3 linked regions of the Homo sapiens genome follow. The protein of the gene in region 2 purifies or fractionates together with the protein of the main gene of each other region. This does not show direct contact. Each region holds a gene or a part of one and is shown on either strand. Other genes may lie near its edges.

What was found. The genes of interacting proteins can lie anywhere in the genome.
Region 1: the proteins of PAK3 (region 2) and LPXN purify together in Homo sapiens (co-immunoprecipitation; one large-scale study listed by IntAct). This does not show direct contact.
Region 3: the proteins of PAK3 (region 2) and PALLD purify together in Homo sapiens (affinity purification with mass spectrometry, with the first as the bait; one large-scale study listed by BioGRID). This does not show direct contact.

Annotation. Positions count from the first base shown.
Region 1 is NC_000011.10:58,564,594-58,569,944, forward strand, and holds part of LPXN (leupaxin), read right to left. Parts: intron 1-5,351. UniProt on the Homo sapiens protein: Transcriptional coactivator for androgen receptor (AR) and serum response factor (SRF). Contributes to the regulation of cell adhesion, spreading and cell migration and acts as a negative regulator in integrin-mediated cell adhesion events.
Region 2 is NC_000023.11:111,161,394-111,166,744, reverse strand, and holds part of PAK3 (serine/threonine-protein kinase PAK 3), read right to left. Parts: intron 3,831-5,351; coding exon 3,699-3,830; intron 3,184-3,698; coding exon 3,018-3,183; intron 1-3,017. UniProt on the Homo sapiens protein: Serine/threonine protein kinase that plays a role in a variety of different signaling pathways including cytoskeleton regulation, cell migration, or cell cycle regulation.
Region 3 is NC_000004.12:168,922,964-168,928,314, reverse strand, and holds part of PALLD (palladin), read right to left. Parts: intron 4,061-5,351; coding exon 3,895-4,060; intron 3,371-3,894; coding exon 3,237-3,370; intron 3,083-3,236; coding exon 3,069-3,082; 3' UTR 3,037-3,068; exon of another isoform or gene 3,031-3,036; intron 2,103-3,030; coding exon of another isoform or gene 1,930-2,102; 3' UTR 1-1,929. UniProt on the Homo sapiens protein: Cytoskeletal protein required for organization of normal actin cytoskeleton. Roles in establishing cell morphology, motility, cell adhesion and cell-extracellular matrix interactions in a variety of cell types.

The sequences.
Region 1 (5,351 bases), on a different chromosome or scaffold from region 2:
TGAATCTAAAAGATGGTTGGCTGGCAATTCATTTATTAATTGAACAAATATGTATTGAGGGCCTGTCATGTGCCAGGGCTGAGGATGTAGCAGTCAAAAAGCAAAAAAATCAAATAAAAACTGTAAGCCCTGAAGCTTACATTCTGGTGCTGTGAAACAAATAATAAAGAAATTGGTATGTAAAAGTAATATTCTGCATAGAGGATGGGAAGTGGGGAGAGACAGCAATTATAAATATACTGATCAGGGAAGGACTCACTGAGAAGAGAACGCTTGAGCAAGGACTTATATAGGAGGTGGGGAAAGAAAGCAAATATCTGGGGTCATATGATTCAGGTGGAAAGGCCAGCAGGAAAACCACCTGGAGCATCTGTGGAACCACGAGAAGGAGAGTGTGGCCTGAGCAGAGTGAACCAAGGACACAGGGACAGCAAGTAAAGGGGCCAGATCATACAGATGAGGTGGCCACATCACCAAACGTTCAGAATGGGGTATTTTTTAGAAAGAAAATGGGTTCCAAAAATAAGTCATATTGTATCATTTTTAAAATATGTGTTTATTGGCCAGGCATGGTGGCTCATGCCCGTAATCCCAGTACTTTGGGCAGCCGAGGCAGACGGGTCACGAGCTTGTATCATTTTTAAAATATGTGTTTATTGGACGGGCGTGGTGGCTCACGCCCGTAATCCCAGTACTTTGGGTGGCTGAGGCAGGCGGATCACGAGGTCAGGAGATCGAGATCATCACGGCTAACATGGTGAAACCCCATCTCTACTAAAACTATAAAAATTTAGCTGGGAGTGGTGTTGCGTGCCTGTAATCCCAGCTACTCAGGAGGCTGAGGCTTGGAGAATTGCTTGAACCCGGGAGGCAGAGATTGCAGTGAGCTGAGATCATGCCACTGCACTCCAGCCTGGGTGACAGAGCGAGACTCGGTCTCAAAAAAAAAAAAAATGTGTTTATTGACCTGAATTTGGTCTTATTATATTGGTGGACCTATAAGATAATTCTATCCAAAATTTATTTTCAAAATAAAAATTTCCTGAAATATCTTAAAGTGATAGTGATACAAAGTTATGAACATTCAAGCAACTTTAAAAAAATATTGGCCAGGCACAGTGGCTAACGCCTATCATCCCAGCACTTTGGGAGGCTGAGGCACGTGCATCATTTGAGGTCAGGAGAATTTGAGACCAGCCTGGTGTCATGTGACCAGACATGGTGAAACCCTGTCTCTACTAAAAATACAAAAAAATTTGCCAGGTATGGTGGTGGGTGCCTGTAGTCCCAGCTACTCGGGAGGCTGAGACAGGAGAATTGCTTGAACCCAGGAGGCGGAGGTTGCAGCGAGCCAAGATCATGCCACTGAACTCCAGCCTGGGCAACAGAGTGACACTCTGTCTCAACAACAACAAAAAATTGATTATCTGAACATTTTTAATGGTACAGACAATTATTCTTTATATGTATTCACATACCTTAATTGGTTATTTAGATATTATTGTCTCTAGCATTGGGATGTGGACATTTTTCAGGAACATGTGTTTTTTTTCGTTTTTTATTTAAACAGTTATTTTTTTATAAAACTGCAATCTTTTTCAAAACTTCATTTTATGGTTAATATATTTGAAATTATGGACAACTTTAATTGATGCTTCACTATATGTTTTTAACTGAGAACACATTTCCTCTCTAGATACTGATGAACCTGTAAGTTCTGCTAAATGAAGAATCTTCTCATTTTTTAGATTAAAATATGTAAATATTTCAGGCCAATATCGTCATAGGTGCTGTCTTTCTACCTTCATTCAAAGCACTTTTGCTCAATAATTTCTTACAAGATAAAACTTTCAAGTTGTCTATATCTGTGATTGTTTCAACATTTCACCAAATCTAGATACTGCAAAATCATAGACTTTCACAATTTTTCTCCATTTTGGTAGAGAATAAAAATTTATCCAAATAAAATTAGAAGTCAAAATACATCAAAGTCAAGATTTTTCTGAAGCACAATTGTCAAAATAGATAATTAAACCATATCTGCTTTCATCTTTTGATTTGTTCAACTCCTTCTTCGCTTTTGTAGGGAGAAATTTGAGCTTCTTCCTTTGCAAGCCTTATTTTACATAATTGTAACTTGCTAAAAGCTTCAAAAGCTGAATTTTCATGCTACATTCATTCAGTAATCGATTAAAAATTTCCAACTGGTCTTGAACATAATGCAATCTAAATTTGGGTTGCTTTACAAAGTGGTTTTTCAAAGGCTCAGGCATTCCCAAAATCCAATTGATGACATGCAACACAGACAGGAATATACATATAGTCATTCTGAAATGTTTCCTTGCATGGTAGTGTTCAATATCAGCTTCTGTCAGAAAAGTTTTGTAGATCAGTTACTTATAAAATCTGTGTGTGTGTGTGTGTGTGTGTATATATATATTTATAATTTATACATTTTGACAATTTTAGTTTCTGTTTTGACTGACAGAATACCGCAGCTTGTTTGAATGCAGTCACAAATTTTGTGCACATTACAACCAATTCCAAGTACATTTCTGCTTCATAGCTTGTTAACTTGGTAAGAACATTTTTAACACAATGCTGTGCTCTATTAACATTTGTATTCATATTCTTACAACAAAAACAACAGTTTACCTTCAATGTTGAGCTTTTCAACTAAATTTACAGTGGCATTAACAATGTCAGATGTTTCACTTTTTGACTAGGAAATAAATTTTCACATATTTTATTTTGATTGTTTGAATTAGATAAAAAACAAAATTGAAACATTTCAGAATTAATACATTTTTGAATTGAGACCTCTAAGGAAATTATTATAAAAAACATTATTTGAAGGTTTGCAAAGGAAAATCACTCATTAATTATTACCAGTTTACTTACAAGTACAAGAAAACTTGGAATTGAAAATGAGCAAAATTAATTTATGAGTTATTTGATACTAATGGGAAGGTGTGCTTCACAATGACATGTACATAGGCCTCCTGCAGCTGCCGTGTTGAAGTCATTTTAAGGCATATTCTTCTTAAATTATTAACTTTGGAAATAGATGCCAAAGCTGCTTCACCATATTTGTACCTTCTGGTTTTCAAAGGGATAGTGATCTTTCTACTTGCCTGCATGGTACATGGTAAATATTGAAAAATATTTTCTGCACGTTGCATATTCATTATCAGCTTTCTTGAGACAATTAAACATGTGGGTTTTGTTTTGAGCTAACTGCTGAAAGGGTTTATTGTAAAATTCAAAAGGCATTACCATATAATAAAACAAATAGAGCTTCACATATACAAATAATAACAAAACTGCTTTAATAAAACAATTAGGTTACACTATACTCTATGGCAAAATTACTTAGCCTCTATTTCCTAAACATAATTTGTATGACATTAAGCCACAATTTCTCCCATTTTCTACTGACTCTGAGGAGGTTCCACGCATCTCACAGGCCACCCACCACACGACCACATGAGGGCATGAGTGGTGGTTCACAAAGTGGCCAGCAGGGGGAAAAGCCTCAGAAATTCTTCTGCTACCACCTAAGATCAGAAGAGGTACTTGTGCTTGAGCTCTTAGCTTTAACAGGCAGCACCCTGCATATAATTCTTGAAAGGTTGCTGCTAGCTAGGTTTCATCTGAACAGAATCAAGAAAAAAGACAAGTTATCATTAGCCATCTTTTGCATTTAACCATAATTAAGTCAGAATTTGGCTGGGGACAGTGGCTCGTGCTTGTAATCCCAGCACTTTGGGAAGCTGAGGCAGGCAAATCACCTGAGGTCAGGAGTACAAGACCAGCCTAGTCAACATGGTGAAATCCTGTCTCTACTAAAAATACAAAAATTAGCTGCGCATGGTGGTGCATGCCTGTAGTCCCAGATACTCAGGAGGCTGAGGCAGGAGAATCACTTGAACCTGGGAGGCAGAGGTGGCAGTGAGCCAAGATTGCACCACTGCACTCCAGCCTGCACGACAGAAAGAGACTCCATCTCAAAAAAAAAAAAAAGAGCACTGTTCACTGAATATGTGTTTCATACGCTGCTAGATGAGACCATGGAAGAAGCTGGAAGGAGGTCTGTTAAGCCATAGTGGCTTACTTAATGCAAATACTGATAAGAAAACTTTAAATAAAATTGAAGATCTGGGGTAAAAAGTAAAGTTAATAGGATGTGAGAAAAACAAGCATAAACCCAGGACTCTTTCAGGTAAACCAGGATATATGGTCACCCCAGAAAGATCAACATGAAACTATGGCTTTTACTCCAAATGAGATGGGAGTCATTTTGGGGTTTTGAGTAGAAGAATGACAGGGTCTGACTTTAGTTTTTAAAGGTGACCCTGGCTGCTTGAGAACAGACTGCAGTGGGGCAAAGGGCAGGAGACCACTTAGGAGCCTACAGCTATAATCTAACACTGAGAACAAAGACAATAGTTCCCTAGTAGAGAGATAAATTCGTATCGTTAAAATTGTGTATGTGTCTGGAGAAAAGAACAGTTAGGGCGTAAACTACCCCTGAGCTCAAATTTCAGGTCTGTGCTTCTGGCTATTTCATACAGGGAACAATGATGAATCAAAATATCATAGTACAAAATTACCAGCTATGAAGAGCATCTACTTAATTCATCTTACACTAATTCCATTCTCATCAAGCAACCTTTTAATTATAATGTACGTCCATATAGACTTATCCATAGGAAGAGAATGCATATATGAGTAAATATAGCTGTTTTACTTGATAGCTTTAACTGTAAATTTGATTTCTGAGTTTTGTTTTTTTTTTGTTTGTTTGTTTTTTGAGACAAGCTCTCATTCTGTCGCCCAGGCTGGGATGGAGTGGCGCAATCATAGCTCACTGCAGCCTCGACCACCTGGGCTTAAGCAATCCTCCTGCTTCAGCCACCTGAGTGGCGGGGACCATAGGCACGCACCACCACACCCTGCTCATTTTTTAATTTTTCGTAGAGATGGGGGTCTCACCATATGGCCCAGGCTGGTCTCAAACTCCTGGCTTCAAGTGATCCCCCCGCCTCAGCCTTCCAAAGTGCTGAAATTACAGGCCTGAGCCACTGCACCTGCCCTAGGTTTTTAAAATATATATATAATCACTTGTCAATTTGGTTAGTTTGAGTTGGTTCCCTAGAGCTTCATCATCTCTATATAAACTAATAATTGAATCTCCTAATCTATTCAGCAGAAAATAAGACCTGGGAAGTAGTGACCCTAAAAAGTCACCCTGAGAAGACTTGTCTATGCTGCCACCTGGCCTTCCTCAGGTGATCTCTGGCCTGAGTACCATTCCAGTCAAACTGCAACAGGCATCTCTGATGCCCCCA
Region 2 (5,351 bases):
CCAGAAAATTTAAATAACTGGCCCTAGGTGACACAGCTAATAGCAATGGGTCTATGATTTAAATGTAGATCCTTCTGACTCCCTTAACCATAGGATGAGCTCCTTAAAATCCATCCTATAGACAGAGTCCTGAAATGTAGTAATGGGCCAGGCTTGGTGGCTCCTGCCTGTAATCCCAGCACATTGGGAAGTTGAGGCAGGAGGACTGCTTGAGCTCAGGAGTTCAAGACCAGCCTGGGCAACACAGCAAGTTCCCATCTGTACAAAAAATAAAAAATTTAGCTGGGCATGGTGGCGCACACCTAAAATTGTAGCTACTTGGGAGGCTGAGGTGGATCATTTGAGCCCACGAGGTCAAGGTTGCAGTGAGCCATGATTGTGCCAGTGTACTCCAGCCTGGGTAACAGAGCCAGACGTTATCTCTCACAAAAATGTAGTTATGATTCTTATCTCCATTTCACAGGTTAAAAATTGAGGCTCAGAGGAGTTAAGTGACTTGTCTGAAGTTTTCCTTAGACAAAGGCGTAATGGCAGAGAGAAGGCACAGAGAGGGTAATGGTGGAGCAGGAGCAGGAAAGTCTGCCTTTGTGGACTTTGGAGTATAGTTCACTGAATCTGCTTCATGAGAAGCACTGCTCCACTTCTCAGCAGGTTCACCCTGCCAAAATCTACAAATCCAATGTAAGGTTGGCAGTCACAAGTGGCCTGCTGGCTAGAGGGAAAATGACTCTCTCTATGCCCAAGCATGAAGTCCAGTAGAGAAAAAAAAAACCCCACTGAATTCTTAATTCAAATGTAATCAAAGTTAGCTTCCCCTTCTTCACCATGTTGCTCAGTGTAGAGCAGAATAAACAAAATAATAAGGACACAGCTCTAGCACCACTAGAGTTTACAAGCAAAACAAGATTTTGGTCCAAGAAAATAATGCTTGTTTCTCTGTCAGCTAACAAAACTATACAAGCATTTTTGTTGTAATACATCTATTGAGATTTGAAACAGATACCAAATAAGAGTCATTTTATTAAGGCAAGGCTGTTAGATTTTTAAAATCTGATATAATCACATAGGTCATGTCTACATATGCAAAATAAAGAAAAACGTGCCAATTGTCTGAATAATTGAACTTAAATTATCGAGGCAATTCTTTCATTTAGTTCTTCCTTTTTACAAAAATAGACAGTTCGGATATGCAGAAGCAAAGTAGGTAGGTAATGGAAAAAGTGTAAGCTTTGAAGGTAAACTGGTCTCAGTTCAAACTTTGGTTGTGCCACACATTGGTTTGGTGACTTGGTCAGTTAAGCCTTTTAAAGCTTACTTTCATTCACTGGTCTGTAAAATGAGGATATTAGAATCAGCTGCAAGGAATTACTGTGAAACTATGATAATGTATGTAAAGTGGCCCACCCAGAAGGTGCCCAATAAATGAGAATTATTACTGCTGTTATTACAGCAAATGGTTAGTATCAGTGCTAGTGGCATATTTAATCATGAATAGTAAAGTCAGCAAAAATCTAGCAATTGTAGTTCTGAGTTTTAACTGACAGCTGCAACTCCGACCTTTGCCTTTCCAAATGCATCTAACTCAAATGCCTCAATCTCAGTACTGTTGACATTTTGGACTGAATAATACTTTACTGTAAAGTGGATGGAGGGCAGCCGTCCTGTGCACTGTTGGGGTTTTAGAAGCATCCTTAGCCTCTACCCATTATATGCTACTAGCAGTCTCTGAATCAGGACAATAAAAATATTCTCCAGACATTGCTAAATGTCCTTTGGAGGGCAAAATCATCCTACCACCACCTCTGCAGAGCCTCCCTGTGGCCTATAGTGGGAATTACTGTCTTCCTTTTCTGAGGTCTTTTAAATAAAAATATGCATGAAACGAGATTATCTTATGCTCTAATTGTATCATACTATTAAATCGTATTTTCCAAAAAAGATTGAATTTCTTGATGACAGGAAAGTTTCATTCTATTGTGTCCTCCAAGGTTTCTTGCACAGAACAGACAAGTAGGAACTCAGTAAAGATGTATTTGTTTACTTATTTTTTTCATTCACTCACTCAACAAGCATTTGCTGTATGCCTTTATGTAATGGGTATGAACTAGGGGTTGGACATATAGGGAAAAAAGGGCACAGTCCCTGCTCTTGAGAATCTCACAGTCTAGTAAAGAAGTCAGACTAATATGGTTTGATATTTGCTCCAGTAAAAGTGGTAAGGAAGAGATGCCCTTAACATGGACTGGGAGGGACAAGCAACATCTTCTGAGGAGGCAACTTTTGAGCTGAGTATTGAAGGATAAGTAGGAGTTAGTCAAACTGGGGTTGGGGGGGGCACTTATTGCTGATATCTAGCAATTTGTTAGATGCTTTTATAGTATGAGTTTAATGAATATGCTTTACAAACCTTTGACTTTTCAGCAGATAATCCATTTTTTTTTATCTTCTTGACCCAGAAAAGTAACTAGAAGGTAAGTGTTTTATAAAACTGGGGCAACAAGTGTGTACACACGAGCATGTACACACTAATGACATTGTGGAAGGAAGCTACTAGCATTTGCTAGTTCTGTCTCTCCTGCCACATATAAATGCTTCTGAATTAAGGGAAAAAGCTATATTATTTGTTGTTCCAAGTTTTGATTGACTGTGTTGGGCTTTGAGGTTGACATATCTATCATCACTGATTAGTTGAGAGCCCTTGGGTTATGATCATAACATATTTTATCAGACTATTCTCTTTTGAAGATGTAATCTTAAAACTTGCTACTTAATTTGTCTTATCAATTTTCACCTCAATTGATTCCTTCAAGTAAAAATATTTAGTTCCTGTCAAATTAGGAGTGGAAGGGAGAAAGTGTTCTGGCATATGCAGTGAGTCTCAAATTTTTCATCTCATGATTTTGGGAAGTCTGGAGTTCATATAAGCAGATTAAAACTTCCAAAGGATCAATTCCCATTTTAAATGGCTTATGAGAAACACTCCCGTGTAGAAAGTAATCATGGCAAGAAGTACTCACTTAGCTTCTCTAAGATCTCCTCATCTGTCATCTTGGATTTTTTTCTTTGCCGATCTGTGTTCCTGTACAAAGTACTGGAATTGGCATTTTCAGCAGAGGGTGGTGTGACCTCTTTATTTGGTACTGCTGGTGAAGCAATGGATTCAACCACAGAACGAGTATAGATCTAAAAAAACCAAAAAGCTCTGCAATTAAAACAGCAGGCCAAGGAAAGAGTGTGGAGTCAATGTATTGTAATATCAATGAATTTTTAAAGACAAGTGGTATTTTCTTAAAAAAAAAAAGGACTTTGAGTAGCTGAAAGTACAACACTGTTGAAAGATCATGGGAGCTAGTCTTTGGATGTCCCTATACATGCCTTGCTAATTCTGGTCTGAGGATCTCTGTTTATGCAACTCTTCCTACCTGGTTTACATGGATTTCCTTCCTTACCTTAACTTCTCCAACATTTTTATTACTTAGCAGTTATTTATGTATTGTTTGGTATTATTCTCTAATTGTTTAATGTGCTAACCTTGTATCCTCAAACAGTATCCTCAAAACCTTGGTCATATTTTATACTTTAGCTCTTGGAACATAAAAGATGCTTAATAGGTACTAGCTGATTAACTATATTCTAACTCTATGACTATTCCAAAGGGCATCTTTTGAATCATTTGGAAATAGTCCTTTGTGACTTACTGATTTTGTATGCTCTGGTCTTGGTGCGATAACTGGTGGTGGCTCATTTTCATCTTCTTCTTCTTCTTCCTCTTCATCTTCTTCTTCAGACACAGGAGGGGCCAATGGAGGCTCAGATGCTGTTTTTGTACTCTTGTGACAAAAACAAAGTTTAAAGATCAGGTATTAACTCCTCATTGTTTTTCTTCAGAAATAAAACAAGGGAAATGAAATATTTAAGCATGTAGGGATAGGAGGAAACTACATCTTTCACAAATGATCAGAATCATCAACAATTTGGTGGCCAGGACTTGCTCACCTGAATACAATCTCTGAACTTATTCAGAGATAAATTCATGTCATGGCTTAAAAAACCATGAAGTGTAATTTTTTAAAAAACTTCTCACTGAGCTCAAAAACAGTGGACTATTATTCACTTAATATTTTAAAGTTCAATGTTTTTGAAATACATTAAAAATCAAACTAATTGCTCTTAGAGCCTTGAATCTATACTGGGCAGATTATCAATTTATTGATTGACAGTTTGTCAACTTGAAAAGAACTATTTTCTACCTAAGGATCAGAGCATGCATATACATATGGTATTAATATAGCTCTGTAAATACTCACTAAGAACAAACAAGCCAATAAATGTCTCTTCCCTGTCCAGCCTCCTGGAAAGAAGCACTCAGAGAGTAATAGACATGAAGATCTAAGAACTACTCATCCACATGAATAATTACTCAATATTAACCATGAGTTAAATGGAGATTTTCAATATTTTATAAACTGCAATAATACGACAGTATTGTGGTACAATAGCAACAATACCTAGGGACAGTTCTTGATCACTCATGTTAATACAGTGGTAAAATGGTTCCAAAGTTGGATTTTGAAAGAACTGTGGCCATGGTTCTCAAAGTGTGGTTCCCAGATCAGCATCATTAGCATCATTAAGGAACTTGTTAGAAATGCAAATTTTCAAGCTCCATTCAGACCTATGAATCAGAAACTCTGGAAGTGGAGCCCAGCGATCTGTATTATAACAAGCCTTCCAGGTGATCCTGATGCAAGCTCAAGTTTAAAAACCATCAACTATGGCTTAGGTCTGCACTGTTTAACATGGCAGTAACTAACCACATAAGGCTACAGAACACTTAAAATGTGGCTAGCCTGTGACTTCAAACTATACTACAAGGCTACAGTAACCAAAACAGCATGGTACTGGTACCAAAACAGAGATACAGACCAATGGAACAGAACAGAGCCCTCAGAAATAATGCCACATATCTACAACCATCTGATCTTTGACAAACTGACAAAAACAAGCAATGGGGAAAGGATTCCCTATTTAATAAATTTTGCTGGGAAAACTGGCTAGCCATATGTAGAAAGCTGAAACTGGATCCCTTCCTTACACCTTATACAAAAATTAATTCAAGATGGATTAAAGACTTACATGTTAGACCTAAAACCATAAAAACCCTGGAAGAAAACCTAGGCAATACCATTCAGGACATAGGCATGGGCAAGGACTTCATGTCTAAAACACCAAAAGCAATGACAACAAAAGCCAAAATTGACAAATGGGATCTAATTAAACTAAAGAGCTTCTGCACAGCAAAAGAAACCACCATCAGAATGAACAGGCAACCTACAGAATGGGAGAAAATT
Region 3 (5,351 bases), on a different chromosome or scaffold from region 2:
TAAAGGTGGCAAAATAATGCTAGTTAATCCCAAACCCAGCAAATCAGCAAAAAAAGGTCACATTCAGAAAAATTTGGCAAGTAAGACATAAGTCATAATTCTACAATAGAGATAGGTCCATGAGAGACTGTGTATGGTATCTTAAATTCCATATTAGCAATGCATATAAGTGCGGTCAAAGAAACTTGAACCACACTGCATAGAACATCTGCCACCCGGTGCTCAAGCCTATTAATCACTTAAACCTTGGTTGGTTGGTGTTCTTACAAAGAAGTAGAAAGCTGTACATGTGAAACAGTAATATGAAATATATGGGGTGGTACACAGATATAAAATTATTTTAAAAAATACTACGTATGAATTGAGTAACTGAGCTAAGAGAGGCCACTTATAAATAATGAAAGATACATGTGTTTTGCATAAGGAATACAGTGTTTTCTTTTCATAGCAAAGTACCATTAAAGCCTCATGTTTTATACTACTAGGTCAAATTATTTTTTCTCCTTTTTAAAATTTATCGGTTCCGACTTAAAACCATCAAGTCTGGTCAGAATCAACTCAGTCTAGCTGATGCAAAATCATATGCATTCAAAAAGCAGTCTTTACCGAGATGCCTTTACAAACCTTGGAATCCAGCACCTTCTTAAGGCAAAGTTTCATGGCAGCAGGGAAGTGAACTAATAATTTTCATTTACCACATCTTGGTGTCTTTGAAAAAATACTTTATGGCACAAACCTGTTTTTGTCTCTCCTTATGTCTCCACTTCCTTCAAGTAGACTAGATGCTACAGGCAATTTCTCATTTATGCCACCATGCAGTCTCAATCCATTTTCAACTTGCTCTACATACCTAAAATCTTCCACTACTACACAAACCTCAGACACACTGCAATCTCCACAGCATGTGTGCTCCACAGCATGTGTGCTCCACACTTCCAGCTGGCCCTGGGTTCCTTGACTTGTGAATGGCAGTGTTTTTTTCACCTATGTTTGAAGAAAACCAAAGAAAAGCCTGGCCTTTGCTACCTCTCCTGTGCCTTCTACTTTTATCTAAATGAACACACTATAATCATGCTGGTTGCATTTTCCTTCATTCTCCTCCCTACTCCTTCCAAACCCCTGATTCCTCCAAATACTATATATGCCTTGGTCATTTGGGTGGTTTGGATGCTTTCTGTGGAATGAACTGTAATATATTTCTGCTTTATTCAGAGCACTTTATATTATTTATATTTAAATTAGCCTTTTAATATGGTTTGTAAATAAGTTTCCTACCAAGGTAGCATGAAAACACTACACATAAAGAAAAAAAATGTTAAGAACTAAGGTATTAACCTTGTTAGAAAACTCTTTTGATATTAACATTTAAGGCAAGTAGTTCCTTCCTTATGATTTAATATAAAAACATTTGCAAAGACAAGGCATTTACTTGGATTTCTTTGTCATCTCTTCTTCTTTCATCCTTACATATTGCACTTGGTTCACTGTATCTGTCTGAATACACTGTGCTTCAGAATCATTGTAGTACTGTTTGTGGTACAACTCCCTCATTAAACATTTCACACTATCAGGCTACACAGCACCTATATCTTGTGTTTAAAGGCACTTGTAGATAATACAAATTGTAGTTACCTGTGAACAATTGATTTCCTTTAGTATTTTGGCATTTTGATCACTTTAATCACAGCAATTCCAAAGTTTTAAATTGGACAGTAAATGTGTATTTTCTGTGCAATGTGTATATTTGTATTAGCATTATCTACTTAAACTAAGTTTGGTATATCAAGTAAGAAAAATATTATTTTGGTGTTTTTTTTTTAATTTCTTATAGTCAAAGGTATGTTTCTGCCTTTTACATAATGTGACAAAGGAATATGTTGGTCAAGGCAATGGCTGTTTCAGTGTTTCAGCTTTAACAAGAATGCTGGATTACAGGTCCTCACTTTCTACCAAGGCAGTATTCAGTGTCAGGTGAGATGGGTTGGCCTCAGGTTGGAACGCTGCTTTGATGTCTAGTCCCTGGTCCGAAAGTGCTGCATAGCGACTGGCTGAGGGCCGTACTTTTTTTGGCTTGGTGCTCTGTGACTGCTGATGCCACTGGGCTACAAAGAAAAAGAGTAAATTAAGATTTTTAATCAAGATATACTTGGAAAGCCTTTAGATATTTCAAATAAATACAGAATGTCTAGATAGATGCAAGGCACCTGAACACATCCATGGTAGAAACATGGAAAATTTAGGAACACTTTTGCATTTTACTCACATGTTGCAGATTTACTGTCTATACAGGATAGTGGGAATAAAGCAGCTAGATTACAAAGGTCAAGTGTAGTTTATCTTTTTTTTTTTTAAGTAAACACTGCAGCACAGGGAATCCTTTGGAATAGCTGATAAGCTTCCTAATTCTCATCCCCCCTCTCCTTTTAAAAAATATTTTCTCTAAAATAATTATAGCACTTAGGAATTCTGCTGGATGTGGATGCTTTAACACTAATCAACTGAAAGGAATCGTACAGTAGGGAAGGTTGAGGCCACACATTTCTTGATGACCCTCACATAGTTATTTCAAGAAGAGGCAAAATCTGAAATAAATTCTTAAATAAATTCTTAATTTTTTTCTAGTGTTTTTTTTATGTCAATGGATAACATAATGCTGATTGTACTAGACTGTAAATTCAATAGGAATAATTTTCTTTAAATTTGGGATGCATGTACACAAATATACAAACACAAGTCTACTGCTGGCTGCTTAAGATATATTAATGAGAAAAGCACTAAGCCACAAAAGTACGCATTCCAGGATCAATGGAACACACGTTTAGAGTGCATTAGGACACTGCGATAGAATATAGGAAGAAATGTTAAAAGGCAGTCATTTGCAGAACACAGTAACAAGAACATGTGAAAAACATGGTTATGCCTTTGCCTACTGTTAACTCCTAAGGATGCTTGAGTAAGGAAGCCACAACTAACTAGCCAATGTAAGAGAAATCAACATGCATATTTTGCTAATAATTCAAAGTTCCTGAATGATACTTGGGTATTTGTTCTCCTGGTGTGGTTCACTATTAATGTCGAGAAACTACAAATAGAAAGAGAGAGAGAGCAATATGAATTTTTTTGACAAATAAAACACAATAGTTGTTTATAAAGAGTAATGTGATTTGCTGTCCAGATGTCTAATTTTTCATAATTTAATGAGTAAACGCAATGAAATGAGATGAAGTGGCACTCACTGTAAACGTCCAGCCTGGCAGTACAGGACACAATCCCTGCTTCATTCTTGGCTGACACAGTATACCACCCAGCATCTTCTTTTGTGGCTCCCTGAATGAGCAGGCAGATGTAGCCGTGGTTGTCCTGGTGCATGCTGGAGAAAAGGATAAAGTCATTAGGGTTCTAAATTTTTTAAAAGTGGCTTTGGACATGAAGCATCATTTTTAATTAGATCATTAGAAACAGAATTGTGCAAGTAGCTGATAATAGGGTCATACTTATTCTGTAGAGATTACTAGCTCCATTAAAGTTAATGGGAGAAAGAACAGACGTCAAGAGTTGAATACATCTGTGTGCTTAATTCCTAGTTGAGGATCTGCCTTTACAAAAACCACTGAATAGTCTTTTATCACTAAAGCAAATGAATTCATCTTTTCTTTTAGATAGAATGATAAACACTTTTAAGAAATCACCATTAGATCAAACACCCATAGCTTCCTTCTAAAAGCTTAATCCTACATTGGGTAACGCATGGTTTTTGTCTTTGATTGATTTCATCAAAAATCAAAACATCTATGTGGCTTTTACACATAGATTTCCATGCTATATAAAATGTATCTTTTGATACATCATTAGGACTGAACAGTTAAGGATCAGGTTCTCATTGTGCAGTCTTACCTCACTCGGTCAGTGCTGTGAGTGAGTGATTCATTTTCTTTCTTCCAAAATATCTGAGGTGGTGGCACTCCCAATACACGACATTCCAGCCGCACTGGGTACCCATCAGCAACTCCTGTGTTTTGGAGCTTCTCAATAAACACAGGGGGTTTGTGTGCTTCTTTAGCTAAGAAAACATGAGATGAATTCTCTATCAATGATATACAAAAGGAGCACTAGAAAGAATTCAGAAGGCTTTTGGAATATTGCTTGAATAGATCTTTTATGATACCATTTTTTACTCCAGGTGGTAAGATGCTAGTCCCCTCTCCAAATTATTCTTTTACCAAGCAAAGGTCTGTATACTTCATTCCGCTCATTTATTTCCTCAATTAATTCAAGTCTGATAGGCTCACACTGTCCACTGGCCATCTGCTTCACAGAATGCCTGTCTGACCAGCTGTGGGAGACTCCTAAGTCATTGCTAGCATCTGTGATGGCTTCACTACTAGTGATTATGTTACCGATCATTCACAGCCTCAACCAACTACTGCCACCTAGTGGTGCTGAGGACAAGTATTTCTAGGAATTTGACCACTTAGATTCCCTCACTGCCGTTTGCCATGTTTGCCATGAATATTCTGAATATTTGTAACTCTTAAGTGAGACATGCCATAGAATTTAAAGGGGGCAATTTAAAGGGGAGGCATCTTTATCTAAATTTGGCAGCTTTAAATAGTTACCTGTAAACTAGGAATGTATATCCTATAAATTACAAATTCCACTTTGTATTCTTTGAAGGTTATAAAAAAGCTTTATTATAACCTTGAAGGAAGGAACCCATTAAAAAAAAAAGACAACTTTAGTACTATTCTGAAAAATTCAGGACTGATTGTTAATAACACTCTGAATAATACCATCCAATGGGAAATTGTTTTCTTGGATCAGTTGTAGTAGTGGTGGAAAGTACTTCAGAGAATGAATAAGGTTTACTTATTTTCTTTTGAACTACCAACAATGAATCTGAGAATGCATTCCTTTTCCACCACTACTCCCTCATCTGGAGTGACAGATATATCACAGCAAAGCAGCTAGGAAAGAGCTCAAAAAGGATGAAAATTCTACCTGAACTTTTCAAATGCTTAATACTCTCCAACACCACGAGTTAGTTAGAAGGTTGGATTTTTATTGAATTTTACATGGTTGCCCATCCTAGGCTATTCTGGGAGAAGTGGGAACAGAAGCTCACTTTGTATTCTTTCTGGGGCTCCAGTTTTGCAAAGAACATAAAATGTATAAAACAAGTCTTAATGTCATAGCAACTCATCAGTAAGAATAACATCTACCACTTTGCAGCATTGCTGTGCAGGGTACTAGTTATGCAGAGCTTCATACACATTTTTATGATTTAATCCTTAGGAAAGCACTGTGAGGCATTATATTCCCATTTTATATATGGAGAAACTAAGTCGCAGAGA